Linked DNA regions of Homo sapiens: regions 1, 2, 4 and 5 are each linked to region 3. The links come from fine-mapping of genetic effects on gene expression. A gene starts in region 3. Each other region holds a variant in brackets. All regions are shown on one strand. Distances are between the middles of the regions.

Evidence for each region.
Region 1: its variant is fine-mapped to the expression of AIG1 in whole blood (TOPMed, PIP above 0.99).
Region 2: its variant is fine-mapped to the expression of AIG1 in spinal cord (GTEx, PIP 0.97).
Region 4: its variant is fine-mapped to the expression of AIG1 in whole blood (TwinsUK, PIP 0.95).
Region 5: its variant is fine-mapped to the expression of AIG1 in whole blood (TOPMed, PIP above 0.99).

The regions. Positions count from the first base shown.
Region 1 is chr6:143,234,931-143,241,124 of GRCh38, reverse strand. All of the region lies in intron 3 of AIG1 (androgen induced 1), which reads right to left. Among named protein-coding and RNA genes, the nearest start is that of AIG1, 180 kb to the right of the region's middle. The variant C/G (reference allele first, on the strand shown) is at 3,166.
Region 2 is chr6:143,732,648-143,738,841 of GRCh38, reverse strand. The region is part of intron 2 of PHACTR2 (phosphatase and actin regulator 2); the gene reads right to left. Among named protein-coding and RNA genes, the nearest start is that of PHACTR2, 58 kb to the right of the region's middle. RefSeq lists an enhancer at 1-59. The variant T/C (reference allele first, on the strand shown) is at 2,837.
Region 3 is chr6:143,056,924-143,063,117 of GRCh38, reverse strand. AIG1 (androgen induced 1) reads right to left here and starts at 2,229. Exons shown (of 6, transcript NM_016108.4): 1 at 2,052-2,229. The coding sequence starts at 2,192. RefSeq lists enhancers at 1,690-1,739, 2,340-2,469, 2,295-3,233 and silencers at 1,930-1,999, 2,250-2,339.
Region 4 is chr6:142,998,429-143,004,622 of GRCh38, reverse strand. All of the region lies in intron 2 of LINC01277 (long intergenic non-protein coding RNA 1277), which reads left to right. Among named protein-coding and RNA genes, the nearest start is that of LINC01277, 36 kb to the left of the region's middle. RefSeq lists an enhancer at 686-1,885. The variant G/A (reference allele first, on the strand shown) is at 3,093.
Region 5 is chr6:143,028,848-143,035,041 of GRCh38, reverse strand. The region is part of intron 1 of LINC01277 (long intergenic non-protein coding RNA 1277); the gene reads left to right. Among named protein-coding and RNA genes, the nearest start is that of LINC01277, 5.6 kb to the left of the region's middle. RefSeq lists an enhancer at 1-84. The variant A/G (reference allele first, on the strand shown) is at 2,689.

The sequences.
Region 1 (6,194 bases), 180 kb before region 3:
TGGTTTTATTTGTTGTTGTTGATTTTTTTTTTTCAGACCACTTTTCTAATACCCTCTGCTGATGGATAGAGATTCTCCAGGTAGCCTCACAAACATCAGGTCAATGTTTGTAAAGGAAAATCTATAGAAATCTGAGAACTTCTCCACAAGCTAAGAGCAAACGGGAATGTGTATCATTTCCATCTGAGGAGTAACTAACTCTTCATGGAAGTCCTTTAAGTCAGATACTCATAGAGTATGGTCTGCAGACTGGTGGCCGGCCATTGGTATAAATTCACAGAAAGATAAGTACGGGAATTGAGAGTAAGCACTTGAAGGATTTTTAAAGCCACTTTCCCATTGAATCCAATAAAAAATGTTGGCCCTGAATATTGTCTGGTTTTTTAAAAAATTTATTTTTCTAGTAATTTTTTATTATATTTGGTACAGATTTTGGTTCATGACAGATTGGAAATTTTTTAAAAATCAAAAACCCCAAACCCAAACAAATGCTCCCTTACCAGTGATAGCTTTAATTGTTGGGAAAATTCCACTAGCCATTGGTCCAGAGGGAAGGAGCAAAGATTGGATGATGTGCTCGGTCTATGATGTCATAACTTCATTATCCTAGGCAGAACAGGGTGGCTGTGGTTTATATGTTTTATGTAGAAATTGAGAAAATCCTTATAGAAAATCCCAGCTATTATCTTGCCATGTTAAGATCAATAGACTTGCCACATGTAACTTCTCCAAGCTAAACTTTCATCATATGTAACATATAAAAGTTATACTTAATTTCTAGGGTTGTTCTGAAACTCAAGTAGTCAGCACTTGTACAGTATTCTGTATTCGCCAGGGCCTATTGTAATATGAAACTACACCACCTATACTCATTTCACCCTTACAACAATCCTTAGAGGCATTCACTATTTTCATTCCTATTCTGTAGATGAGGAAACTGAGGCATAGAGGGGTTAAGTGACTTGCCCAAAGTAAAACAGCCAGGAAGCAATGCAGCTGAGATTTAAACCCAGGAGGTCTGGCTGAAGAGTCTGTTCCTTCATCGCCTATGTCATACTCTCTTTCATAATTGGTTTCAATAAATGTTTGCTCTTGGTTCATTTATTCTCTTTGTCCATTTTAGATGGGCTTTAGGTAATAGTGAAATTCTACCTGGAACCTCTAGTGTTAAATACATCTAATTACAGGGAGCTATTTGGCCTCTGCTTTTCTGCCTGTTGCCACATTTCACAAGTTCCAGTCAGGTAAACATCCTGAGCCAGATACGGTTAATATAATGAAGCCAGGAGAATATGAGATGAGTTCTAATTGTCCATGTGGCCAACACATAGGCCACCCTCTGCCCAACTTCTCACTTCATTTATTTGATCATCCAATTGTCCAAAATCCACATTTTGAACACGGGCCATGGGTCAGGTCTTGTGATACGGCACAGGAAAGACCAAGATGCAATAACACATGTCTTAATGTGAAGGGGGAGAAGTTTACTGAGTAAGGTAGACTTATAAACATGGATGTGGAAGCAGGAAGATGAGAGGGAAACAAGATCGTGTGGTGAAAGAGGTGGGAGATAGAACACATGGTCCTTCCTACATTCTTCAGGGGCTGCTGTTCCAGCCAGTGGTGGCGCCTCAGCTCATCAACAAGCAGCCAGATACAAGCATCCACCATCTCCTCGTTCTGAAGCCACAGCCACAGTCTCACCCAACAAAGGAAGTGAGCACAAGATTTCTGAGTGGCAGTGTTAGCATGGGTTCTGTGGGTCGTGAAGGTTTTCCCATTAATATCTGCTCAGAAATATTCAGAGGACTTTCACTTCTGTTACGAGATTCCACTGGACTTGATTGCCCTTTTCTTACATTTCAATTCTGAATGCCTCTTTTATTCCTTCAGGGGCCACACCAAATGTCATTTCCGCTATACATCCTCCCCTCATCACCACCTGCCCCACTCCAAGCAGTGTTGCCAGTCTCTCCCCAGTGCTCCAACTGTACTCTGTGCACACCCTTGGCAAAGCACGTATTATGCTGCAATTACAGCTGGAAATTCATCAATACCTAAAAATTCTGCCATGAGTGGACTGTGTCTTAGTCATCTTTGTTTCATGGTGGCCAGTTCAATAAAGACTTTTGGATGACTGAGGTTCTTTTAGGCTGCCCCAGTGTCAATCTATCCTGGTAATTATGTCTACAGTGTCTGGATTCAAGATGAAAGGGAAGTTGTAACTGGTTCTCTTCCATTTCAAATACAAGCTAGTCATACAGATTTTATAGGAGTCTCTTAGTGGCAATCTTATCCCCTACTTTTCCCTTTTAGGGACAAAATCTTTTTAGATAATAAAGGTTTTGCTCCAGGATCTATCTTTTCTAGCATTTACTTGTTAGGCATTCCCACTCATTACAGTTCCTTCAAACATTCCAGCTTTTCTAGGGCCAAATGGCCATTGCTAGCGTGTCTGCTTCCAACCAACTCTATGACAGACACTGTTAATTGTCTATTCACTTTCTTCCTTTCAAATGAAACATAATTTTTTTTTAAGCTGGTAGAGATCCCATGACCTCAGAGAATGCAGAACCCCTCCCCCAGACCCAAAGGACAAGTTATGATTGGCTTAGGCTCAACATATGACCCAGTTGTAGCCAATGAGATAAAAGGAAAAGTTGGCTGGGGGAGGGCTCCCTTTCTAGAGTGAAAACTAAAACAAAAACAAATGCCATAGTATGAAGAAAGTCTTTCTCTATAATGGATTCCTTTCTGCCTGGGTTGTTGTTATGAGAAAATAATTCTGGGCACAACAGGAGCCATTTTGTGGACAGGAGACCATAACTTTGAGCACAAAAGGCCAACACTAAGGGTGGTGATAGGAAGCCTGAAAACAAAATGGGGCCGGGTGCGGTGGCTCACGCCTGTAATCCCAGGACTTTGGGAGCCCGAGGTGGGCAGACCACCTGAGGTCAGGAGTTCGAGACCAGCCTGGCCAACATGGTGAAACCCCGTCTCTACTAAAAATACAAAAATTAGCCAGGCATGGTGGTAGGCGCCTGTAGTCCCAGTTACTCGGGAGGCTGATGCAGGAGAATGGCTTGAAACCAGGAGGCAAAGGTTGCAGTGAGCTGAGATCGTGCCACTGCACTCCAGCCTAGGTGACAGAGTGAGATTCCATCT[C/G]AAAAAAATAAAAAATAAATAAATAAATAAAATGGGTCTTTGGTGACACTGTTGAGCAATGGAAGTAACACCAGAAACACTTACCCTTTGACTTCTTTTTATGGGAGAAAACAGACTTCTACGTTTTCAAGCTTTTGGTCATGTTTTCTCTCACTTGTAGCCAAAAGCTTCCTGGCTGATATACTTCATAATTTCTTTTTCCTGCTTCTCTCATGAACCCAGACTCAGCTCTTTTCTCTTCTCCTACATTTCTAATAGAAAAGTTACTTCAAAGCTAGGTTCGGTTAGAGTAGAAATTGTTTTTCCAAAGTTGGTGGTAACCTTACATGTTATCTACTGAATAGGTGAAGAAACTAGGGGAGAGAGAAGTTCAATGATTTGGCCAGGACATGCATACTAAATATTGGTAATACATACTAAATATCCTGCTTTTCTGATTTCAAGTTTAATCGTGAGTTTATCATATATTAGTTGAGAGAGATGGTATCTTTCTTGACTTCATAGCCCCAGTCCCTAGCATAATGCCTGCATACCGTATGTTCCTTATAAAGGTTTATTAAATGAATAAATTGTAGCCTCAACTACATTATAAGCTTCATGAGACAAGACTTCTTCATGAGACATTATAGAATAAATTGTAGCCTCAACTACATTATAAGCTTCAAGAGACAAGGGTCCAGCATGGTACATGGCACACAGTAGATGCTCAAAAATATCTGTTGGATAGATAGATGGGGATTGCTAATGGATGTGTGACACTATGTTTAAGGACTGAAAAATTAATTAAAGGCATTGAACTTCAATGCATTAGATTATTAATATCAAGGAGTGGGTGCAGTATACAAAACAGTTAAACTCTTGTGCTGTAGAGCCAGGCAGTGGGGTTTAGATTTAGATGCCTTGCTTACCGGTAGCATACTCATTGTAAGTTATTTAACTTGTCTGAGCCCCAATTTCCTTACATGCAAAAAAACCAAGATAGTGATAATACCTCCTTCACTGGGTTTCTGTGAGAATAAAATGGAATCATGAACATAAAACATGTAGCACAGTGCCTGGTGTGTAGAAAAAATATAATTGCTACTATGGTTGTCTATTTTTTTGGTGAAAAAAATTTCTTAAGGAAGTATGGAAATTCTTTTATACATGTGGTTTAGAGCAAACAAAGCAGTGTCATTTAGGTTGACTTGATGCAAATGTGTTTTAGTTGGGGGGTGGCGTTTTTTGGTTTAGGTAGCTCATTTTGCTTACAGTTTGAAGAGGAAAAAAGCTAAGCAGATGGCACGGTGACACAAAGGACTGGAGCCTACTGTTGCTAGAGGTTGTAAAAGTGGAACCCCACGGTTGCCAGCTTGGCTGGACTTCAAACAAGTCCCATAAAGAGTGTGACTCGCTCAGAAGGGGGCAGGAACTTGGTGTGAAGCTCTCTAAAGTGCAAAGAACAACATCATTATATCCACAGTAGCTTGACTCAGTGCTGGGCTCTGGCCATAGGCCGGATGGCAAGAGGGTGTCAGAAAATCACAGGCAGTGCACCTGTGAAGGGACACCAAAGACTGAATCCTTTGAAAACTCCTGACTCCAGAACAACGACAAATTACCAACAGATGGCGTGAGTCACAGACTCGGAGTCCGAATGAGGCATCTGCAAACTCACGGCAGAGGCCCTGCCCCGCTGGGCTGAGCCGGACAGACACAGGCCCCAGCCCAGATGGCTGCGAAGGTCACCAGGAGGGACACCAGCCGTATGCGCTCAACTCATGAGAACTGGCACAACTCGTAAGGCCCAAGAAGGCTTCCCAGGATTAAAGGAAACAGAAACCAGATATCCTGGTCAAATAAAACCTCACATTTTTGGGGCTTATTAAATACAAGAAAATAAAAATGTGATGGGGTTCAGTATATATACCCGAAAATATTTTAAGCTGAAGGAATTTGGGAAAATGGCAGAAGTAGGAAGGTCTTCTCATCTCCTCCCTTCCCTGCCCTACCTTCTTTGAAGCAAAGCTTGGGAGACCCTCATTGGAGAGGTGCCCTCCCTAGATCCAGAGGAAAGAAGCATCTTTATCTTTGAAGAGAAGAATTGGAAAAAACAGGATTTCCTCCAGTTTATTATCAGTAGATCACACTTTTTAGTCCAATTATACTTCATAACTATCCACTTCTGTGTTAAACCTAGCATAAAAAATACATGGTTTCCCTGTTTCTTCAGGTCTTCCTTTACCTTAGGAAGGCATCCATGTCACGTAAAACCTAAATACAACGGTATCCTTTTCTGTTGTTTATTTATCTTTGTTATAGGGGCCTCAGCCAGGAACCTAGACTTTTCTTCTTCCCCTACAAATGAATCAGGGGAGAAGAGAGTGAGATGGGGAGCCTGGGAACATGGCATGCCAGGGAGGCATTTAGCAGAAAAAGGCCACCATTTTCCATTCCAGAAGCTTCTTTGATGTACTCCCCTTCTCATGCACAGGTTTAGCTTCAGGTCAGAAAAGTCCTGTAGATATGTACATTTCCCACATACCTTCCCTGCCATTATTCTATAAAATATGACCACATGCCACAAAGCGAAAAGGTATCTATACAAATTTCAGATGTTTTTCCTTCTTCCAGTGTTACAGAAACACGTATGTCCTCACAGAGACCAGCAATGATGAAAGGAAATACTAAATTCTATTTAGGAAAAAAAAAACTTGCATGGAATAAAGTCCTCAAAGCATCTCATTTGATGAAAAATCCTGTCTTCTGAGTTTCCACAGCACCCGGGGCATAGCCTACCACCTTAGGTTGTATGTCACCATTTTCCACTCTGCCACTAGAATTTCAGCTTGTCATCTGTTGTTCATCTTTAAATCCCTACCTCCTACCACATCATCTAACTTTCAGTGGGCCTTCAATGAATGACAGATGAATGAATGAATAAATACATGCATGCATGCAGGGCTATGTAGTAATGATTAGGCCTCTCCACCCCCGCCCCAGGAAGGGAAGTGCATTTAACTCAGAGGGAATAATCCCTTTGCCACATT
Region 2 (6,194 bases), 680 kb before region 3:
AAGAAATCTTAGTGACACTAAAGCATCCTAAATGAAGACATTTCCATTCATTTAATTTTCTTTCTTTCTTTCTTTCTTTTTTTTTTGAGACAAGGTCCTGCTCTATCACCCAGGCTGGAGTACAGTTGCACGATCTTGGCTCACTGCAGCCTCCGCCTCCCGGGCTCAAGCCATCCTCTCACCTTAGCCTCCTAAGTAGCTGGGACTACAGGCATGCACCACCATGCCCAGCTAATTTTTGTTTTGTATTTTTTTTAAGAGATGGGGTTTTGTCATGTTGCCCAGGCTGGTCGTGAGCTCAAGTGATCCATTTACCTTGGCCTCCCAAAGTGCTAGGATTACAGGCATGAGTCACTGTGCTGGTCCCAACTCATTTAAAGATCTAATTCTATTGCCCTGGGGTAAAGGTGGCTGAAATTCTTTATATTTTAGGTTGATCTTTTCAGGGGGGTCATGAAAAAAAATGTATAATCTTTTGTTTTGTTTTGTTTTGAGATGGAGTCTCCCTCTGTCGCCCAGGCTGGAGTGCAGTGTCACAATCTCGGCTCACTGCAACCTCTGCCTCCCGGGTCAAGCGATTCTCCTGCCTCAGCCTCCTGAGTAGCTGGGATTACAGGCGCCCCCCACTGGTTTCGAACTCCTGACCTTGTGATCCGCCTGCCTAGGACTCCCAAAGTGCTAGGATTACAGGCGTGGGCCACAGCGCCTGGCCAAAAATGTATAATCTTTAAAAGCCTATTTTTTATTGAGTTGAGCCATGAACAATACATATTAAAACAACACCAACTCAGGTAGGTGGGGATAACCAGTCTAAGTTGTAAGAAGATTTGAGTAGGAATTTCCCCAAATCCATGTTTATTACTTTCATTTTACATATCCAATCAGACCAGGTTTCTTAAGATGATTAAAAAGTTTATTTTCTGGAGCATTCTTCACATTCTGTCCACTACCTACCATCTTGCCTACACAACAGAGAGCACAGTATTTGTAAAGAACAGTATTCCTTTGGCAAAACTGGTCCAGGCCTAAACTAAAGCAGGAAAGATAAACTACACCTGATTCCTGCCCAACCCTGCAGTGATAGGAAAATGGGTAGTTTCAACTGAAGTTTTTATTTTCTAAGATAAACACAAAAATGCAGTTTGGGGAAAGGTAACTTTTCACTGTAGCTGAAACTGTAACACTTAAGGTTTGATAGCAAAGCTAAGTTTGTACTTAGACATTATGCTCTTTTCAATAATCCCTCCTTGCCACTCTGTGTTTCAAATATTGTGATTATTTGGGTAATATCAGGGTCTCATCCTTCTTGAAGACTGAAAGGCTATGAAATGTAGAAGGAAGAATATATTTATCTTAATACATACTATATATAATAGAATATTTCATACAATAGGTTAGAATAGACTGGGCTGGGTGTGGCAGCTCATGCCTGTAATCCCAAAGCTTTGAGAGGCCGAGACAGGAGGATCACTTGAGCCCAGAGTTCGAGACCACCCTGGGCAATACAGTGAGACACCATCACTCTAAAAAATAATAATAAATAAAATTTAATTTAATTTAAAAAGAATAGACTGCTATATACTACATAGACATATATATAATATATATAATTCTTAAGAGGTCTAGAATATGTTATGTGTAGAAGTATTCTTGTCCTATATTGTTTCCTGTATAATATTTACAGAAAGGTATAAAATAAATATCATTCCTATATAATATTTATATAGAAGTTCACGATGTTATATTACATTATATATAATAGACTCTATATAATAGAATACTTTTATATAGGATGTATTCCAGTCCTCTTAAGAATATACCTTTGTGTTCAAATCCAGACCCTGCAAGTTATTGGTAGGTGAACACAGGCAAACTCCCCAACTTCTCTGAGCCTTTATTTCCACATGTGAAAACACAGGCACTAAAACCTAGCATGAATAGACGTTAGGATGATTAAAATATCTTGTAGGCCGGACGTGTTGGCTCACGCCAGTAATCCCAGCACTTTGGGAGGCCGAGGCGGGCGGATCACGAGGTCAGGAGATCGAGACCATCCTGGCTAACACAGTAAAACCCCGTCTCTATTAAAAATACAAAAAAATTAGCCGGGCATGGTGGCGGGTGCCTGTAGTCCCAGCTACTCCGAGGCTCAGGCAGGAGAATGGCTTGAACCTGGGAGGCGGGGCTTGCAGTGAGCCGAGATCTTGCCACTGCACTCCAGCCTGGGTGACAGAGCAAGGCTCCGTCTCAAAAAAAAAAAAAAAAAAAAAAAAAAAAAAAAAAAAAATTGTAAAGGGTTTGGCATAAATTACAGACCAAAGAAATAGGAGTTTTTTTCTCCTCTACTTTCCATTTCTCCTGTATACATTTGCATATTCCTTGATAATAATCCACCAATATTTTCATTTGACATGCTTATTGACCTAGAAGGCAGCATAGTATAGGGATTAAGAATGCAAACTCAAGGCAGGGTTCTGAGGATTAAATACTGGCTATGCTTTGCATAAGGCCTGGAACTTAGGGTGATTACCTAACTTTTCTGTGCCTCGCTAGTTTACTCAGGAGTAAAAGTGAGATTATAATAGTAACCTGCATCATAGGGTAACTGAGAAGATTGCAGGCATTTAAAATAGTATCACAGGCTGAGCAACATAGTGAGACTCCATTTCGACAAAAAATTAAAAAATTATCTGGATGAGGCAGGAGGATCGCTTGTACCCAGGAGTTAGAGGTTAAGGTGAGTTATGATTGTGCCATTGCACTCCCACCTGGGTGACAGAGAGAGAACGTGTCTATAAAAATTTATTAATAATTAATTAAAAGAGTGCCTGACACA[T/C]AGTAAATACTCAATGAGTTAGTTATCATTATTATTAATACCCACATATCTTTTTCCTATATTAAGTTTAATCCTAAATGAAACTTCAAATGAGTAACAGAAATACATTTTTTAAACTTTAATTTTTTTAGGAAAAACTACTTTACTTCACAATGCTACACATATAGAAATTACCCAAATTATCCAAAGGGAACATTTTCAAGCCTCATGGGGTAGTAACTAATTTGAACTTTTTAGCATTGAATTGAAATGAAAAACTCAGCAAAAAGAAAAGATGACGGAATGCCAGCAATATGTCACTGTCTTACTTAACACAGGTGATTAAACTTTCATTGGTGTCAATAATGTTTTGCATTTGATTCATCTGAAGTTTTTTTAAAAAAACATTACAGAGGGTAAGTGGTGGGGTGGGGGGATGGGAAGTTGTTGAATGGGCACAGAGTTTTCATTTTGCAAGATGAAAAAGTTCGGGAGGTCTGTTGCACAACGATGTGAATATACTTAACACTACTGAACCGTAAACCTAAAATGGCTAAGATGGTAAATTTACATTATGGATTTTAAAATAAAATCAAATTGTAAAATATTTTAGGACTATAGATTTCTATAAATGCTGAAATGAAAAACAGACAAGAAAGAATTTTCATCACGATAATGCATAATCAGTTTTCTAATAATTTTCTAATATCTAGTCTTCTTTCCAATCATGTTTTTTTATTATCTTGTATTTTTGTATATAGCCTCTTACGCCCTGTCTTATGGGTACTAAGTAAACACTTATACTTTGGAATAAAGGAAACTTCATGAGTACCAATTTCAAAACTTACAGTCTAGGCTTGGGAATCAGTTGGAGAAACCTTCGGACAAAAAGTGTTATAAGCCTAGGTGAGCAAACACCTAACACAAAAGAAGTAAAAATTAAGATTGCATCTTATATTCTAAGTGAGAAATAAATCAGGAAAATATGTAAGCCAAAAAACAGTCACTTTCCAGGACTTAGCCCTCAGTGATAAGGACCAGATTCATATCACAGGATGAAAAAGACAAAACAAAACCACAAAGGGAAATAATATGCAAAGGAAATAAAATAATGGACTTTCCTGACATGAATTCTCTGACCCAGGCCAGAAGGGCTTCTGTAGTACCTTTAAAAGTGTTTAAAGTGGCACCACTCCAAAGGAAAATGAAATTAGGAAATTATCCACCCAAGCAAGGGATATAAACAATCGGATCTTCTCTTAAAGCAATACAAACCCACTTTGTCTCAACCCAATGGAGGCCTTATTTAATTAAGATGTGGGTGGGAACAGTGCTCCTTTTCTCCACATCCCCCTTAGCAATCAAATGTGATGGAAAAAAAAGGGAAAGCAAGTTAACAATTCTGCAATTCATTCTATGTGTGTGATTTTTAAAATGTGTCATTTGTAATCAGAAATCAGCAAAATCAGTAGCATCCATGTCTCATTTGAGAATGCTTTCACAGAATGCTCAGTGAAAATGCCTTGCTTATCTGAATTCACTAGAAAAACCTAACTCCCCCTGGAAAAGACGGGAGACTTGAGATACTAGTCAGGTCTATGGTGCAACCCATTTAAATCCAGAGCTCGGCTTGGATTAAACACAATATCCCACTTTTTCCAGAATGTACAGGAAGCAAGGGAGACTCCTCAACTCCATTTAGAAAAAAAGATTTCATGGTTTTATCGATCTGTAAGAGGTAGGACCTGATGGTTAGGCCATTTATTGTGCAGCTGGGCTATTCTAAACCCATGGTGGAAGCATCCCATATTTATAAAACCACTAACTTCAATTATGACAAATGCACAAAAAGTTAGCACTCATATTCTATTACTCTTTCCCATAAATGGGTTTTACCACTAGAATAGACCTATAATGAATAATAAATGCTCCATAAATAAAAAGATGGGCCATAATGAGTCTTTCCATCCACCTATGTATAAAAAGATTGAACCAAGAAAAAAAATCCATTCTACTGGGAGAAGAAAAGGGGAGAAATAATTAGTCTCCTTTATATTTAGAGCACATAGAGGAAATCTGTTTTAACACAATTATATACCTTTAGGAAAATAATAGACGATATTTTTTAAAAGCATACGTAATAAAATTATTATATAATATCTCTTGCCCACAGAATTTCTAGCACTCATTTGGTCTCATTAGGTTTTGTTGTGAAATACACAAGAACACAAATGGTTGAATTAAAATACAACCCCCACCACACTTCCTTTCTGAGAAAGATGTTCCCACATTGACCTTTGCAATGCTGCCATACAGAGCAGTCACAGTTACTTAAGGTCATTATCCATTCATGAGAGAATAGCTCCCCACCCTACCCACTAAATTGGTAAAATATTCATTTAGTCTGTTATGGCTTTTCAGGGTTTCTTGAGGCTGTTTTAAGCAACTCTCAGTGGTATGAACACTAAAGAAGGATTGAAAACAAGCAGTCATTCCCTACCCCTCACCCCAAATCCAGCACTTTCCAAATCGAAAAGATTCACTTGCAAATGCTCCATATATAGGATGGGATAAGGTCCATCAAGAGCCATTCATTCATTCATTCGTTCATTCAATATACATTTACTGAATGTTTAACATAAGCCAGGCACTATACAAGTTTCTTTGAGATCTCACCAAAGAAGAAAACAAAAATCCCTGTTCTCATGGAATTTATAATCTACTAGGAAGTGGGGTCAGATAACAAACAATAGAAATAATTTATAGATGTTAGACGGTAAAATGTGCTATGGAAAATGAAAAAAGTAAGGTAGAAAAAGAGGAGGAATCAGGCTAGGCATGGTGGCTCACATCTATAATCCCAGCACTTTGGGAGGTCAAGGTAGGACAATCACTTGAAGCCAGTTGGACACCCAGCCTGGGCAGCTGAGCAAGCCTCCATCTCTATGAAAAAAAATTTTTTTTTAAAATTAAGTTGGGTGTTGTGGTGCATGCCTTTGGTCCTAGCAACTTGGGAGGCTGAGGCAGGAGGATTGCTTTGAGCCCAGGAGTTAGAGGCTGCAGTAGAAATGATCACACCACTGCACTCCAGCATGGGTGAATGAGCAAGACCCTGTCTCAAATAAATAAATAAATCAGAAAAGAAAAGACAAGGAGTAATCAAAAGTGCTGGGTGGAGCTACTTTATACCCACCAGGATAGCAATAATAAAAAAAGACAGGTAGTAATAAATGTTGGCTGGAGTGTAGAGAAATTAGAATGCTCATACACTGCTAGTAGGAATATAAAATGGTGTGGCTGCATTGAAAAACAGTTTGGCAGTTCCTCAAAATGTTAAACATTGAATTACCACATGACTAAGCAATTCCATTTCTAGGTA
Region 3 (6,194 bases):
CTTCTGAGCCTTGTTTTTCAATGCACAGTAAGCAATGCTAATTATGAAAAGCAGGCATCTCTTGGGTTAACCAACACCCTCAATTTCTACCTCTGTTCACCTGCTGACCCCTGCCTTGCTCCCACAACACAGCATCTACTGCAAGAGTGATGCTGAGGGCTGTTTCTAGAACCTATGGCTCCCACAGCATCTCTGTATTCTTGCCCAGCACTGCTCTTTAGCAACATTCAAATAGGCCAGCTCTAAGTAAGATCTGACTTAGGAATGGGATAAGGCAGTGTCCCAAAAGGAGTTTTGCTCACATAGCCCCTCAAAGAATTCTGAAAATCTATGCACATATTTTTAAATAACATCTCAACATCCTTAACATAGTTAAGTGTAAACACTTGAAAAAGGGACATCTTTCTGGCGCTCTATGGGTGGTATGCTTGCTTCATATACATATGCATCAGAACCTCAGGGTTGCAGATTTAGCTCATTCAGTATACAGAAAATGTCTGCTACACAACATAATTGGCAAAGCCAATCCTCATTGACAAGCCAATCAACCCAATAAGACTTTCTGTCAAGGCAACTCCGACATTGTTGTTCAATCAAATATAAAGATAGCCCTGGTGACAACCATCTATCTTCTGGAAGCTAAAAGGAACAGACAGAAAAGCACACCTCAGAGTCTTGTCACGGGCTCCTCACTTGGATGAATGGGGAGAATGAAAGGAGAACTGGCAGGCATCACGCATGTTCAGAGGGAAATTAGTTTCAAGCAGAGTTGGAAGATGAGGATCTGAAAATTAAAACCCTTGCAACATTCTATACCCTGTGAAGTCTTGTGGGCCTAAGGGTATGTGCACAGTTTGGAGACTGCTGGGCAACAGAATTGAAATTCCACTCTGAAAGTATCTAATATAATGCAAATATAAGGTGTTATTTTTAAACCAAAAGCCTCTCTGCATTTCTTTGAGGCATCCTAAGCCTTTGGAAATTTTTAAAACAGGTATCATGTTCTCTTCATCAGAATGGAGGGTCAACAAGAGATTATAATCTTGCTGGTGTAGCCAACCAACTGTATAGTCTTGGATAAACAGTTCAGGGAGTCCCAGGAATTGGTTCTACAATTTCTCTGAGTGCTTTAGAACTTCATTGCTTTTGTTTTAAGCCTCTTCCTAATAATCTTTTAGCGTGTGTCTTAGTCACCTTTACCCTGAAATTCCTAGGTCCATCCATGAGTTCATTATTGGGCCTTATGCCCATGTTCTGTTCTCCAGGGAGGTTGAAGAGGGCCTTTTAGTGCCAGAAATAGAAAAACTTTCAAAATGATATACTAATAATAACCTGCACCTGTCAAGATTATCATATTGTGCCAACAGAGGAGCTGCTTATGCAAACTACTGTAAATTTGTACATGGGAAGACAGAGAAGTGTGTACAGTCACCTTGGAAATGCACTTTGAACATCTCTGTCTCCTAATATGTACGGGGTAAAGGTTGAAAGTAAATTATTGACAATGGGGGAAAAAAACAGATGCAAAGAAGACAACTTTATTAGGTGCTTTCTCTCCCTTATGAGAAGGATTTGGTTCTTTCAGGTGAAGTTCCAAATCACTAGACAATACCCAGTTTCCTTCAGTTGCAACAAGTTCATCCCACGGTGGGTGCTCTGAAAAGCACCTTGAGGGCGAATGGGTCTCAGGCCATTCAGGATCAGGTCCGATGCTTTTGTTGAAGATTCTTCCCGTGTCACCTCTTAGAAGCAGTTCGGTGTCCCCCTCCAAAGAGCCCACCACCTGGCTGCGCCCCACCTCCATTTGTCCCCCAGTTGCCAGGTAAGGGTACCCAGCTACCAGGTAACGGTGAGTGGTTCAGAAGGTGCCGCTGCGGGGGCAGCCAGGCCTTCACACGCAATCACTGGGGAAGAGGCGAGGACACGGGTGGATGCTGGAGGCGCGCACGTGCGCAGGTGCTCGCGCATCCACACACACACACACACACACACACACACACGCACACACAGGCACGGGGTGCGGGGCGAGCAGGGGGAGGGGACGGCCTTACCAGATCAATGAACGTCAGGAATTTCCAGCTCCCTCCGTAGGTCTGGTGTGAGGGCATTTCGATGGCCTTGTAGTTACACAGGATAGAGCAGTAAGACAGCAGGATTGCCATCCGCAGCACCTGGCAGGGGACAAGCGCCATGTTCGCCAGAGGCCTGGACCGGCTGGGCGGCAAGGAGGGCGGGCGTGAGGGAGGCGCCGGGCGCGCGGGGGCGGGCGCCGTGGGAACCCGGGCGCGGGCGCGGGCGCGGGGCGGGGCGGGGCGGGGGCGGGGGCGGGGGCGGGGCGCGCGCCCCCGGGGACTGGCGCGGCCGCGAGCGCCCGGGTGACCTGTACTGGCCGGGCGCGGTTTGCGGACGCTCTCCACTGCCGGCCGCGGCCTGGCAGGCGGCGTGTCGTCATCTCTTTCGTCACCTTCGTCATTCTGCTCCTGCGTTCGCAGGGTCCCGGGACACCCGGCCAGGAGGCGCCCCCTAGGCATCCCAGGTGTGGATGCGACCTCTGAGTGCTACGAGGGCTCGGGAAGTGCGCGCTGATCTCCAGGGGGAAGCGGGCCCTGTGGCTAGTGGGCGCCGGGCCGGGCGAGGGGGCGGGGAACCTAGACTGAAGGAGTGGACCCCAGTGTCCACAAATGTTCCCGCCCCGGAATCGCGGTGACGCTTCCTGGGGTAGTTGCAGTTGGCCGAGAGCTGGTGCCCCGTGCGGAGGGATCCGGTGGGGGTGTGAACGTGGGGTGTAAACCCGAGCACAGGCAGCCGCGAGTGACTTTCAGTATTTTGGGGCAATAAGGTTTTCAGTGTTGACAAACGACTGTCAATCACTAGGAAACTCTCTCAATTCTGCTTTCAATGGGTAGGCTACGCAGCACTTTTCCATGACAGATTGAATAATGTCATATCAGTATATAACATCAGCTAGAATATGAACTTTGGACAAGAGGTTTATAGATAAAAAGCTATAAAGAAAGGATTTTCAAATAACTTTCTGCCACAAGATTGCATTCAGCTTTAAAAAATTCCAATTTTGGATGTAAAACCCCTGCGTGTAATTTAATACTAATCATCTGGTTGTTAAACTGGTTTTGCCCTTACTTTTTTCTTACACTACACTACCAGGGCTTAATGGAAGGAAAATAAATATAAACTGGAGTCCCTCCTGCCTTCCAGTAAATGTTGTCACACTGAAGTTGCATCAGTCTGTGGGCAACATTTTCATTTCAGCCAACCAGTTGCAGGTTCGGATTATGAAAAGGCAACATAGGTATTTCCTGTGGATCCATTTAAAACAGGTGTCCTCTTCAAATAGTCTCTGAGTCAGAGGATGTGGAGGGAGGGCTGGTGGGGAGAAGCATAGTGCTAGAGGTAAAGAGAAAGTAGCAAGCAAGCCATGGATGTTTTCCTGAATGTTTCCAATCAAGCTCTAAACTAAAATGAAGAGACCCACTAGATTTTTTTAATTGGCATTATAATTATGCTAATAGAACTGATGTCAGAAGAAGATTCTACTAGCATTAAAACGATGTATTATTGATGATTTTTGGTTAAATCTTAATGTAAAAGTTGGCTTTATTTTTTTAATTGTGCATCCTTGGTACATGGTTATAAACTGCCAAAAAAATAAAAATAAAAAAGAGTAGATCTATTGAAGATCTACCTACCTTAATAATGTGTCTGGAATTGGTTCCTGCCGGTAGATTAGTGGTCTCAGTGACTTCAAGAATGAAGCGGCAGACCTTGGTGGTAAGTGTTACAGCTCTTAAAGATGGCACAGACCCAGAGTGAGCGATAGCAAGGTTTATTGTGAAGAGTGAAAGGACAAAGCTTCCACAGCATGAAAGGGGACTGGAGCGGGTTGCTGCTGCTGGCTGGGGTGGCCAGCTTTTATTCCCTTATTGTCCTCTCCAGTGTTCTGTTTCTGTCCTATGAGAGTGCCCTTTTTTCAGTCCTCCCTGCGATTGGCTACTTTTAAAATCTTGCTGATTGGTGCGTTTTACAGAGTGCTGATTAGTGTGTTTTACAGAGTGCTGATTGGTGCTTTTTACAGAGCGCTGATTGGTGCATTTTACACTCCTCTTGTAAGACAGGCAAGTTCCCCAAGTCCCCACTTGTCTCAGGAGGTCCAGCTGGCCTCACCTCTCAATAGAGCCTTAATAAAGTTTTATGAGTTAATGTGATATTTGCAAAGTTTGATATACCCTTCCTACTTTACATGTTAGACAATTATTAAGACTCCCCAACCCCATTGTTACAAAATGAAATAATATTTTCATAAAGCCATTTTTAATGGTCAGGTTTTTTGTTTTGTTTTTCTTTTTGTTTTTTTGTGAGACAGAGTCTAGCTCTGTCACCCAGGCGGAAGTGCAGTGGCATGATCTCAGCTCACTGCAACCTCTGCCTCCTGGGTTCAACTATTCTCCTGCCTCAGCCTCCCAAGTAGCTGGGACTACAGGCGCATGCCACCACACCTGGCTAATTTTTTTTGTATCTTTAGTAGAGATGGGGTTTCACCATGTTGGCCAGGTTGGTCTTGAACTCCTGACTTCAAATGATCCACCTGCCTCGGCCTCCCAAAGTGCTGGGATTACAGGTGTGAGTCACTGCGCCCGACCAGTTTCTTTTAAATAAATAACTATAACTCTTAATTAAGTATTTAGAACCTATTCTGCTGGGTTTGCTTTTGTTTTTTCATGATTTGCCAACCATGATCAGATAGTTTTGTGCTTTAAAAAAATGAAGCGTTTGTATAAAACTTGACTCAAATACTATTTTATGAGAATGTCAGTTCACAATTTTTGGAACTTCTTGATAACTATTAACATGTCCAGGCTTGCTTTCTGTGCTTTTCAGACCATATCTAACAATCTTAGTCATGTTTTACAGATAACTTTTGTGGAAAATATTAATCTACACACATTGTGTTTTTACAGCGTAAACAATTGCTTTTAAAACTTCATTAGGTAAGTTATTACTTTTTATGAACTATAATACATTATTCACTTCTAAGTATTCTTATGATGATTCCATATTTGATTTAGATAATACTGTTTTCTATGTATAGAAGAAATATTTGCATGTCTTTTTTTTTATCTTTTTCATTCTACTACACAGTTAGTGAGACTGGAGGAGAAAAGCCTCATCCAGTTGAATTTCATCAATAGCAGTAAACATAAGAAACACCAAGGGAAGATTTCAAGAACCCGTTTTAGCTTCAAGCTATATTCTTTGATTGTTGTAATATTTCTTAGACTATATATGGGGCTGAAGATACCCTTTCTTAAGTACTTCTAATAATTGAGACAGACTGTTCATTCCTTTTTTTTCTTTTGGAGGGGGGGTGTATTAGTCCATTTTCATACTGCTATGAAGAAATACCTGTGATTGGATAATTCATAGAGAAAAAGAGTCTTAATGGACTCACAGTTCCACATGGCTGGGGAGGCTTCACCCTCATGGCAGAAGATAAAGGAAGAGCAAAGTCACATCTTACGTGGTGGCAGGCAAAAGAGTGTGTGCAGGAAACTGCCCTTTATAAAACCATCAGATCTCCTGAGACTTATTCACTATCACAAGAACAGCACAGGAAAACCTGCCCCCATGATTCAATTACCTCCCACCAGTTCCCCCCCTACAATGCGTGGAGATTAAGGGAGCTACAATTCAAGATGAAATTTGGGTGGGGACACAGCCAAACCGTATCAGGGAGGATGTCTGTCTGACATACTGATGATAATACCTGTTAATTTGGGAAATGACTGGGACTCCTATGTCACCCTTAAATTGTATTCCAAGAAGCCAACTTTATGTAACTATTGGTCGTTGCTTAAAAGTTCAGGAGGAAGAATTGTGTTTATACATATCCTTGCAGTATTCGATATTTACACATTTCCTTTGGTTCTGCATTTACATGAGATAAGCATTTTCTAACAATATCAATATATTTGGAACAAATTTTTTCTCCCCATTTATCTGTACTTCAAGGGTGAAAGTTAGGACATGTCCCCCTCAGAGGCCTGGGCATGGAAAAAGTCTTCAGTATTACAGAAAAGATACCTCTGAATTATTTTTATTCATTATAAATGTAGCGTATTTATGATACTAAAATGGAAACGCTACTTTTAAAAAAACATTTTCCCCACTCTCTCCAC
Region 4 (6,194 bases), 58 kb after region 3:
GCTATCTTTGTGAGGGCAGGGCTGTGCCTGTCCTGTACACCAGTTACACCCCAACATAGCCTAGGTTGGAAAGATTTAATTTTATTTATTTATTTAAAAAAAATAACATGTAGCAAGATTTACTTTTATAAGTGAATATATCTCTTTTTCTACCTTTATCTATATCTATCATTATGAATATGTATGTATGAATACATAATAAATATAGATAAATATAATGTTACATATATTATATTAAAAGTAATGGCAAAACAGCAATTACTTTTGCACGAACCGCATATAATATAATTCTTAAGATGATAGGTCTGGTGAGTGACAAGGTGGGTACTCCTGATGTAGGAGGTTGTCTAAATGTGTCTTAGACTAAATATTTTAGAACACTTATACGCTGTCTTAGGACTTCTATCTTTGATAACCCTTCACTTCTGATCTGTGTAAAATGTCTTTCTGATTCCTTTCTGACTTCCTCCTTTAGGGTTATTTTTAACACTACTCTTTTCCAAATATAGTTCCTCACTCTAATAGAATAGTGCTTTATTCTTTGGATACAGTGCATCCATTTTGCACATTATCCTAAGCAAATCTTGCTTTCAATTTTGTTTGGATTTAAAATAAACTAGACTATGGACGTAATGTTTTCAAATTATCCACTCTGTCTTTTATTTTTGCCGCTGTTGTTGTCATTTTACTTCTGCAAACTCTCTGTAGTCTGGAGCCTGTTAGGAGGTCTTGGCAATCATTCACTTCCTCATAATTTGGAAAACTGTGGAAACTAGACCACCGTTACCATAGCTCATTCTGCGTTGGTGTTCTCTGTGAATCGTGAAAACAGATTTTCCATCACTAGTAGATATAAACTAAAATAAAAGTAACACGAAGTATTCCAAACTACAAATAATGATTTATTCGTTGGCAATTTTCAATATTTTTTATCCACCTTTTGGCCCACTAGCAAAGAAACTTGAGGAAATCAGATGACTTCATTCCTTATTTTTCAGATGCTGGATGGCACCTTTAAGAAATCATGCAACAAATATTCAGTGTTTGGTAGAAGGACACAGATCTAGGAGTCCCAACCCACATATTAAAATGATGCTGAGGCTAAACCTGTTCCGCATTCTTTACCTTACCCCTTGTCCAACTAACTACTTTGTTAACCACCAGCAACAATTGTCCCCACCCCTGCCCCTCCTCAGTGGACTTGCCTCTCTGGCTTCTTGACCTTCGCTTCTTCTACAGGCTCATGATATATCTCCTGCCTTCTGGTCTGGCAAACTAGAAAGGACAAACTAATTACTTGATCTCTCCTTCTGAGCTAAGGACCTTTTCTCATAAGATTCATTCTGGGCCCTGTTGCCTCCTTGGTTCTGGCTCCAGATGGACAGATGTTGGCTGTTATCTTGAACCTAGGATCCGGAAATGCTGGAATTTTTGCCAATGTCACTATTCTACAATTGAAAACATGCAATTGTTGAACCCACCCTACTTCACAGGAGAAATGATTCTTGATATGGTTTGGCTGTGTCACCACCAAATCTTGACTTGAATTGTATCTCCCAGAATTCTCAAGTGTTGTGGGAGGGACCCAGGGGGAGGTAATTGATTCATGGGGGCCGGTCTTTCCTGTGCTATTATCGTGATAGTGAATAAGTCTCACGGGATCTGAAGGATTTCCGCTTTTGCTTCTCTCATTCTTCACTTGCTGCCATCATAGAAGAAGTGCCTTTGGCCTCCTGCCATGATTCTGAGGCCTCGCCAGCCATGTGGAACTGTAAGTCCAATGAAACCTCTTTTTGTTCCCAATTTTGGGTACGTCTTTATCAGCAGCATGAAAACGAACTAATACATTCCCCTCTGGGTTTTTGCTGCAATTGAAAAACTTTATGATCTTCTAGACCAGTCCTTGATCTTATCATGTTCTCTTTTGGTAATAAATAGTTTGTAATACTTCTTTTATGATTCTGAAATAAAAATGATGGATAATATGATCTACCTACACATCACTTCAAAAAAATCAATATAATGCACAAACTAGTATAAAGAGAAATAAGAGAAAAGTAATTTATAATAGATTAGTATGGATTTCATTATATAAATGTTTAAGAATGAGTATTCCAGAGGAATAAGAATATTGTCAGGTGATTGCACCTATGCACCAAACCAACTTGTGACAGCTGCAGAGGCAGATGGTTAGAGGTGGAAATTTTTTAATTTTTATTTTTAATTGACACATAATAATTGTACATATTTATGGGATACAATGGGATGTTTTGATACAAGAAGTGTGTTTTATTTCGAGGCAAAAATTGCATAAGTAGTGTTGCTATCAGAATATGATTTTCGGGGTGGGGGGAGGGGGGAGAGATAGCATTAGGAGATATACCTAATGTTAAATGACAAGTTAATGGGTGCAGCACACCAACATGGCACATGTATACATATGTAACAAACTTGCATGTTGTGCACGTGTACCCTAAAACTCAAAGTATAATAATAATAAAAAATATGATTTTCAAAAAATGTGGTAAAATCAAAACAAAACAAATACAATATTCTCCTTGGGAAATGCAATGTTGTTATATGAAATGAAATTAGCTTCCAGGTTCAAATCACATAAACAGGTTTTGTTTTGTTTTTTTTTTGATATAGAGTCTCGCTCTATCGCCAGGCTGGAGTGCAGTGGCACCATCTCAGCTCACTGCAGCTTCCACCTCCCAGGTTGAAGCGATTCTTCTGCCTCACCCTCTCCAGTAACTGGGATTACAGGTGCCTGCCACCACGCCCAGCTAATTTTTGTGTTTTTAGTAGAGATGGGGTTTCACCATGTTGGCCAGGCTGGTCTCGATCTCTTGACCTTGTGATCCACTCACCTCGGCCTACCAAAGTGCTGGGATTACAGGCGTGAGCCATTGCGCCTGGCCCCGCATAAACAGGTTTTTAACTTATACAGATATCTTGTGGGTCAGTGAAAAGTTACGTGGGATACAAAGCAATTCTTTATTCTCTGGAACTGTCTCATGTATTGTAGGACATCTGGCATTCCTGGAACCTGCCAAAGATCTAGACAAAGCCAGTAGCTTCTTTATCATGGC[G/A]ACAACCAAAACATGTGCTCTTCCCCATTTTAAAACTGCCACCAAGGGGATGATAGAGCTCTCATTGAGAACCACTGTTGAAAATTACCCACTACCTGCCCAGGAATGTGGACAAGAAGAAAGAAGTGGTAGAAGAGGTGGTGGGTGTGAATTGACATTTATGTGTACTTACTATGTTGCGATGTCCATGAAATAATTTTATGTATTTTTTAAACTTCATCTCCAAAATCAACCCTTGAGGTAGGCAGGCTAGGGCAGTTAAATAACTTACTCAAAGTCGTACAGCTGAGAAGTATGAGCTGATTGGAGCTTGAAGTCCTCCATAGCTAATAGCATTCTTGGCTCTCTGGCTTTACAGAAAATGAAGAAATGGTCAACACTGTACAAAAGGTGGAGAGGCCCCTTGGTGGAAATTTTGAGGGAGTTCCCAGCTGACCCAGGCCAGATGCATGAAAGCCCAGGCCAGGCAGAAAGTGTCAATCATGCTATTCACAAGCCCCGCTGAGGGAGGTCCTGTCCACTGCTTTGCAGCGGAGTCTAAAGCTTGGCCCGAGACCCAGCCCTGGAACAATGCCACTCTCTGTAGAATTTGTCTTTCTTTTTTTTTTTTAAAAAAAATCTTCATTGTTTTCTCCCTTATAATAGAAATGATAGATGCTCATTGTGAAATGTTCCTACTCAATCTAGAAATGTATAAAGCAAGAATGAAAGTTCTGTAGTCCCATCACTCAAAGATAATTGCTGCGTACATCCTTTTCATTTTTTTTCCTCAGTGTATAAAAATACTGATTGTAAAATGAGATCACACTATAAATAATGTTTTTTAACTTGCTATTTTTATTTAGCAGCATATTATGGCTTTTTATCCTTGTCAATATACAAAAAACTTTCTCTCTCCTAATTTTTAATGATCACATAATTTAGAATTGTATGTCTACTTTTGCACCAGGTCCATAAGGAAACTTCTCCTAGGAGAAAAAGACACAAAAAATACTTTTTTAAAAAATATTTTTGCTATCACAAACAATGCTATAATGAGCATGATTGGGCATATATCTTTGGGTAAAGACGCACATACTTCTGTAGTATAAATTCCTAGAAACAGAACTGCCAAATTGCTATCTGAAAGGCTCTACCAATCTACAGTTCTATCAATGGCACTTAAAAATGCCAATTCCTTACACCTCAGCAAACTAACAAGTCTATTTTTCCGATTGGTTTTGGGGAAATAATGCATGCTAATTTATTTTATTTTATTTTATTTTATTTTATTTTATTTTATTTTATTTTGTGTCATTTTTTTGAGATGGAGTCTCACTCTGTCACCCAGGCTGGAGTGCAGTGGCATGATCTCGGCTCACTGCAAGCTCCGCCTCCTGAGTTCACGCCATTCTCCTGCCTCAGCCTCCTGAGTAGCTGGGACTACAGGTGCCTGCCACCATGCCCGGCTAATTTTTTTGTATTTTTAGTAGAGACGGGATTTCACCGTGTTATTCAGGATGGTCTCAATCTCCTGACCTTGTGAACAGCCCGCCTCGGCCTCTCAGAGTGCTGGGATTATAGGCATAAGCCACAGCACCTGGCCGCTAATTTGTTTTTAAAGTACATCAAAAAAATTATCTTCCAAAATAACATCCTTCAAATATTTTTCCATTGGAACATTTTACTACATATCTGTCCCATGATGAGTGGTGCCCTACAAAAGATATGCCCACTGGGAACCTGTGAATGTGACTTACTTGCAAAAAGTGTCTTTGCACATGTAAAGTTAAAGATCTCTAGATGAGGTCATACTCAATTATAATGGGCCCTAAATCCAATGACAAATGTCATTATAAGAGAAAAGGAAAGAGGTGACATGATGATAAAGCAGAGATTGGAGAGATGCATCCACAAGCCAAGGAATGCTGAGATTGACCAGCAGCTGTCAGAAGCTAGGAGAGGTGCCTGATCACTCAGGCAACCTACAGAATGGGAGAAAATTTTTGCAATCTATCCATTTGACAAAGGGCTAATATGCAGAAGCTACAAAGAACTTAAACAAATTTATGAGAAAAAAAAAACCACATCAAAAAGTGGGCGAAGGATATGAACAGACACTTTTCAAAAGAAAACATTTATGCAGCCAACAAACATGTGAAAAAAAGCTCATCATCCCTGGTCATTAGAGACATGCAAATCAAAACCACAATGAGATACCATTTCTCACCACTTAGAATGCTGATCATTAAAAAGTCAGGAAACAACAGATGCTGGAGAGGATGTGGAGAAATAGGAACGCTTTTACACTGTTGGTGGGAGTGTAAATTAGTTCAACTATTGTGGAAGACAGTGTGGTGTTTCCTCAAGGATCTAGAACTAGAAATACCATTTGACCCAGCCATCCCATTACTGTGTATATACCTAAAGGATTATAAATCATGCTGCTATAAAGACACATGCACACGTATGTTTATTGCAGCACTATTCACAATAGCAAAGACTTGGAACCAACCCGAATGTCCATCAATGATAGACTGGATTAAGAAAATGTGGCACATATACACCATGGAATACTATGCAGCCATAAAAAAGGATGAGTTCATGTCTTTTGTAGGGATGTGGATGAAGCTGGAAACCATCATTCTGAGCAAACTATCACAAGGACAGAAAACCAAACACTGCATGTTCTCACTCGTAGGTGGGAGTTGAACAATGAGAACACTTGGACATAGGGTGGGGAACATCACACACTGGGGCCTGTAGTGGTGTGGGGGGAGGGAGGATGGATAGCATTAGGAGATATACCTAATGTAAATGATGAGTTAATGGGTGCAGCACACCAACATGGCACATGTATACATATGTAACAAACCTGCACATTGTGCACATGTACCCTGGAACTTAAAGTATAATAAATAAATAATTAAAATAAAATAAATTTTATTTATTATACGTTAAGTTCTGGGATTTATATGCAGAACGTGCAGGTTTGTAACATAGGTATACATATGCCATGGTGGTTTGCTGTACCCGTCAACCCATCATCTACGTTTTAAGCCCTGCATGCATTAGGTATTTGTCCTAATACTCTCCCTACACACCCCAACAGGCCCTTGTGTG
Region 5 (6,194 bases), 28 kb after region 3:
GGGAGTTACAGATAAAACCCTCGTCCCTCTGGGACAGAGCACGTGGGGGAAGGGGCAACTGTGGGCACAGCTTCTCCAGACTTAAATGTCCCTGGCTGACACCTCTGAAAAGAGCAGTGGCTCACCCAGCATGGTGGTCGAGCTCTGATAATGGATGGACTGCCTCCTTAAGTGGGTCCCTGACCCTCATGTAGCCTGCCTGGGAGACACTTCCCAGTAGGGGCTGAGAGACACCTCATTAAGGAGAGCTCTTGCTGGCATCTGGTGGGTGCCCCTCTGGGACAAAGCTTCCAGAGGAAGGATCAGGCAGCAATATTTGCTGTTCTGCAGCCTCCACTGGTGATACCCAGGCGAACAGGGTCTGGAGTGGACCTCCAGCAAACTCCAACAGATCTGAAACTGAGGGACCTGACTGTTAGAAGGAAAACCAAGAAACAGAAAGGAATAGCATCAACATCAACAAAAAGGACATCCACACCAAAACCAACATCAAGACCAAAGGTAGATAAAAGACCAAAGGTAGATAAAACCACAAAGATGGGGAGAAACCAGAGCAGAAAGGCTAAAAATTCCAAGAACCAGAAAGCCTCTTCTCCTCCAAAGGATCACAACTCCTCGCCAGTAAGGGAACAAAACTGGACGGAGAATGAGTTTGATGCATTGACAGAAGTAGGGTTCAGAAGGTGGGTAATAACAAACTTCTCCGAGCGAAAGGAGCATGTTCTGACCCATTGCAAGGAAGCTAAGAACCTTGAAAAAAGGTTAGAGGCATGGCTAACTAGAATAAGAATAACTAGTGTAGAGAAAAACATAAATTACCTGAGGGAGCTGAAAAAAACAGCACGAGAACTTCATGAAGCATACACAAGCTTCAATAGCTGATTAGATCAAATGGAAGAAAGGATATCAGTGATTGAAGATCAAATTAATGAAATAAAGTGAGAAGACAAGATTAGAGAAAAAAGAATGAAAAGAAATGAATAAAGCCCCCAAGAAATATGGGACTATGTGAAAAGACCAAATCTACATTTGATTGGTGTACCGGAAAGTGACGGGGAGAATGGAACCAAGTTAGAAAACACTCTTCAGGATATTATCTAGGAAAACTTTCCCAACCTAGCAAGACAGGCCAAGATTCAAATTCAGGAAATACAAAGAATACCACAAAGATATTCCTTGAGAAAAGCAACCCCAAGTCATATAATCATCAGATTCACCAAGGTTGAAATGAAGGAAAAAATGTTAAGGGCAGCCAAAGAGAAAGGTTAGGTTACCCACAAAGGGAAGCCCATCAGACTAACAGTGGATCTCTTGGCAGACACCCTACAAGCCAGAAGAGAGTGGGGGCCAATATTCAACATTCTTAAAGGAAAGAATTTTCAGCGCAGAATTTCATATCCAGCCAAACTAAGCTTCACAAGGGAAGGAGAAATAAAATCCTTTATAGACAAGCAAATGCTGAGAGATTTTGTCACCACCAGGCCTGCCTTACAAGAGCTCCTGAAGGAAGCACTAAATGTGGAAAGGAACAACGGGTACCAGCCACTGCAAAAACATGCCAAATAGTGAAGTCCACTGATGCTATGAAGAAACTGCATGAACGAACGGGCAAAATAACCAGCTAGCATCATAATGACAGGATCAAATTCACACATAATAATATTGACCTTAAATGTAAATGTGCTAAATGCCCCAATTAAAAGACACAGACTGGCAAATTGGATAAAGAGTCAAGACCCATCAGTGTGCTGTATTCAGGAGACCCATCTCGTGTGCAAAGACACAAATAGGCTCAAAATAAAGGGATGGAGGAAGATCTACCAAGTAAATGGAAAGCAAAAAAAAGCAGGGGTTGCAATCCTTGTCTGTGATAAAACAGACTTTTTTGTATTATTATACTTTAAGTTCTACGGTACATGTGCACAAAATGCAGGTTTGATACATAAGTATACATGTGCCATTTTGGTTTGCTGCACACATCAACTTGTGGCACTATTCACAATAACAAAGATAAAACAGACTTTAAACCAACAAAGATCAAAAGAGACAAAGAAGGCCATTACATAATGGTAAAGGGATCAATTCAACAAGAAGAGCTAACTATCCTAAATATATATGCACCCAATACAGGAGCACCCAGATTCATAAAGCAAGTACTTAGAGACCTACAAAGAGACTGTGACTCCCACACAATAATAGTGGGAGACTTTAACACCCCATTGTTAATATTAGACAGATCAACAAGACAGAAAATTAACAAGGATATCCAGGACTTGAACTCAGCTCTGGACCAAGCAGACCTAATAGACTTCTACAGAACACTCCACCCCAAATCAACAAAATATACATTCTTCTCAGCACCACATCGCACTTATTCTAAAATGGACCAGGAGAAGTGTTTGGAAGTAAAACACTCCTCAGCAAATGGAAATAACAGAAATCACAACAAACTGTCTCTCAGACCACAGTGCAATCAAATTAGAATTCAGGATTAAGAAACTCACTCAAAACCACTCAACTACATGGAAACTGAACAACTTGCTCCTGAATGACTACTGGGTAACTAATGAAATGATGGCAGAAATAAAGATGTTCTTTGAAACCATTGAGAATGAAGACACAACGTACCAGATTCTCTAGACACATTTAAAGCAGTGGTTAGAGGGAAATTTATAGCACTAAATGCCA[A/G]CAAGAGAAAGTAGGAAATATCTAAAATCAACACTCTAACATCACAATTAAAAGAACTAGAGAAGCAAGAGCAAACAAATTGAAAAGCTAGCAGAAGACAAGAAATAACTAAGATCAGAGCAGAACCGAAGGAGATAGAGACTCAAAAAAAAAAACCTTCAAAAAAATCAATGAACCCAGGATCTGGTTTTTTGAGAAGATCAACAAAATTCATGGACTGCTAGAAAGACTAATAAGGAAGAAAGAGAAGAATCAAATAGACGTAATAAAAAATGATAAAGGGGATATCACCACCAATCCCACAGAAATACAAACTACTATCAGAAAATACTATAAACACCTCTATGCAAATAAACTAGAAAATCTAGAAGAAATGGATACATTCATGGACACATACACCCTCCCAAGACTAAACCAGGAAGAAGTCGTATCTCTGAATAGACCAATAGCAAGTTCTGAAATGAGGCAATAATTAATAGCCTACCAACCAAAAAAAGTCCAGGACCAGATGGATTCACAGCCAAATTGTACCAGAGGTACAAAGAGGAGCTGGTACCGTTCCTTCTGAAACTATCCCAATCAATAGAAAAAGAGGGAATCCTCCCTAACTCATTTTAGGAGGCCAGCATCATCCTGATACCAAAGACTGGCAGAGACACAACAAAAAAAGAATTTTAGGTCAGTATCCCTGATAAACATCGATGCAAAAATCCTCAATAAAATAGTGGCAAGCCGAATCCAGCAGCACATCAAAAACTTATCCACCATGATCAAGTTGGCTTCATCCCTGGGATGCAAGGCTGGTTCAACACATGCAAATCAATAAACGTAATCCATCACATAAACAGAACCAACGACAAAACCCACATGCTTATCTTAATAGATGCAGAAAAGACCTTTGACAAAATTCAACAGCCCTTCATGATAAAAACTCTCAATAAACTAGGTATTGATGGGACATACCTCAAAATAATAAGAGCTATTTATGACAAACCCACAGCCAATATCATACTGAATGGGCAAAAACTGGAAGCATTCCCTTTGAAAGCTGGCACAAGACAAGTATACCCTCTCTCACCACTCCTATTCAGCATAGTATTGGAAGTTCTGGCCAGGGCAATCAGACAAGAGAAAGAAATAAAGGGTATTCAATTATGAAAAGAGGAAGTCAAATTGTCTCTGTTTGCAGATGACATGATTATATATTTAGAAAACCCCATCATCTCATCCCAAATTTCCTTAAGCTGATAAGCAACTTCAGCAGTGTCTCAGGATACAAAATCAGTGTGCAAAAATCACAAGTATATCTATACACCAATTACAAGCAAATAGAGAGTGAAATAATGAATGAACTCCCATTCACAATTGCTACAAAGAGAATAAAATACCTAGGAATGCAACTTACAAGGGATGTGAAGGAGAACTACAAACCACTGCTCAATGAAATAAAAGAGGACACAAACAAATACAAGAACATTTCATGCTTATGGATAGGAAGAATCAATATTGTGAAAATGGCCATACTGCCCAAGGTAATTTATACCTTCAATGCTATCCCCATCAAGCTACCACTGACTTCCTTCACAGAATTGGAAAAAACTACTTTAAATTTCATATGGGAAAAAAAAGGGCCCGCATAGCCAAGACAATTCTAAGCAAAAAGAACAAAGCTGGAGGCATCACACTACCTGACTTCAAACTGTACTACAAGTCTACAGTAACCAAAACAGCGTGTTACTGGTACCAAAACAGTTATATAGACCAATGGAACAGATCAGAGGCCTCAGAAATAATGCCACACATCTACAACCATCTGATATTTGACAAACCTGACGAAAACAAGCAATGGGGAAAGGATTCCCTATTTAATAAATGGTGCTGGGAAAACTGGCTAGCCATATGTAGAAAGCTGAAACTGGATTCCTTCCTTACACCATATACAAAAATTAACTCAAGGTGGATTAAAGACTTAAATGTAAGATCTAAAACCATAAAAACCCTAGAAGAAAACCTAAGCATTACCATTCAGGACATAGGCATGGGCAAAGACTTCATGACTAAAACACCAAAAGCAATGGCAACAAAAGCCAAAATTGACAAATGGGATCTAATTATACTAAAGAGCTTCTGCACAGCAAAAGAAACTCTTAGCAGAGTGAACAGGCAACCTACAGAATTGGAGAAAATTTTTGCAATCTATCCATCTGACAAAGGGCTAATATCCAGAATCTGCAAAGAACTTCAACAAATTTATAAGAAAAAAACAACCCCATCGAAAAGTGGGCAAAGGATATGAACAGACACTTCTCAAAAGAAGACATTTATGCAGCCAACAGACTTATGAAAAAATGCTCATCATCACTGGTCATTAGAGAAATGCAAATCAAAACTACAATGAGATACAATCTCTCACCAGTTAGAATAGTGATCATTAAAAAGTCAGGAAAAAACAGGTGCTGGAGAGGATGTGGAGAAATAGGAATGCTTTTACACTGTTGGTGGGAGTGTAAATTAGTTCAACCGTTGTGGAAGACAGTGTGGTGATTCCTCAAGGATCTAGAACTAGAAATACCATTTAACCCAGCAATCCCATTAGTGGGTATATACCCAAAGGATTATAAATTATGCTGCTATAGAGACACAAGCACATGTATGTTTATTGTGACACTATTCACAATAGCAAAGACTTGGAACCAACCCAAATGCCCATCAGTAATAGACTGGATAAAGAAAATGTGGCACATATACACCATGGAATACTATGCAGCCATAAAAAAGATGAGTTCATGTTCTTTACAGGGACATGAATGAAAGTGGAAACCATCATTCTCAGCAAACTATCACAAGGACAGAAAACCAAGCACCACATGTTCTCACTCATAAGTGGGAATTGAACAATGAGAACACATGGACACAGGGAGGGGCTCATCACACACTGGGGCCTGTAGGTGGGTGGGGGACTGGGGGAGGGATAGCATTAGGAAAAATACCTAATATAAATGACGGGTTGATGGGTGCAGCACACCAACATGGCACATGTATACCTACGTAACAAACCTGCACTTGGTGCACATGTACCCCAGAACTTAAAGTATAATATAAAAAAAATAGAGAATGCTTTCTATTAATACTTCTATTATTCAACAAGATTCTGGAACTTATGGACAATAAAAGAATATAAGGAAAGGAAAAAAGTATATATTGGTTGTAAAATGTATGATTATTTACCAAAAATTATATAACTACCTTGGAGTAAAATCAAGAAAACTGTCTGCTACAGCAACAGAAAGTACGAGAAAGCAGTTAATACAAGATTAATATACCAAAAATCAATAAAAGTTAGAAAATGAAGTGGGAAACAAGACTCATTAGTAATGCTAATAAACATACCTAGAAATAAATCCAATAAGAAAGATGCAAGATTTTCAGTTAAACACAAAAGAAAGACTAAAATAAATGAGGAAACATAACTACATTGAGGGAAGAGTATAAAGTAGTAAGTTATA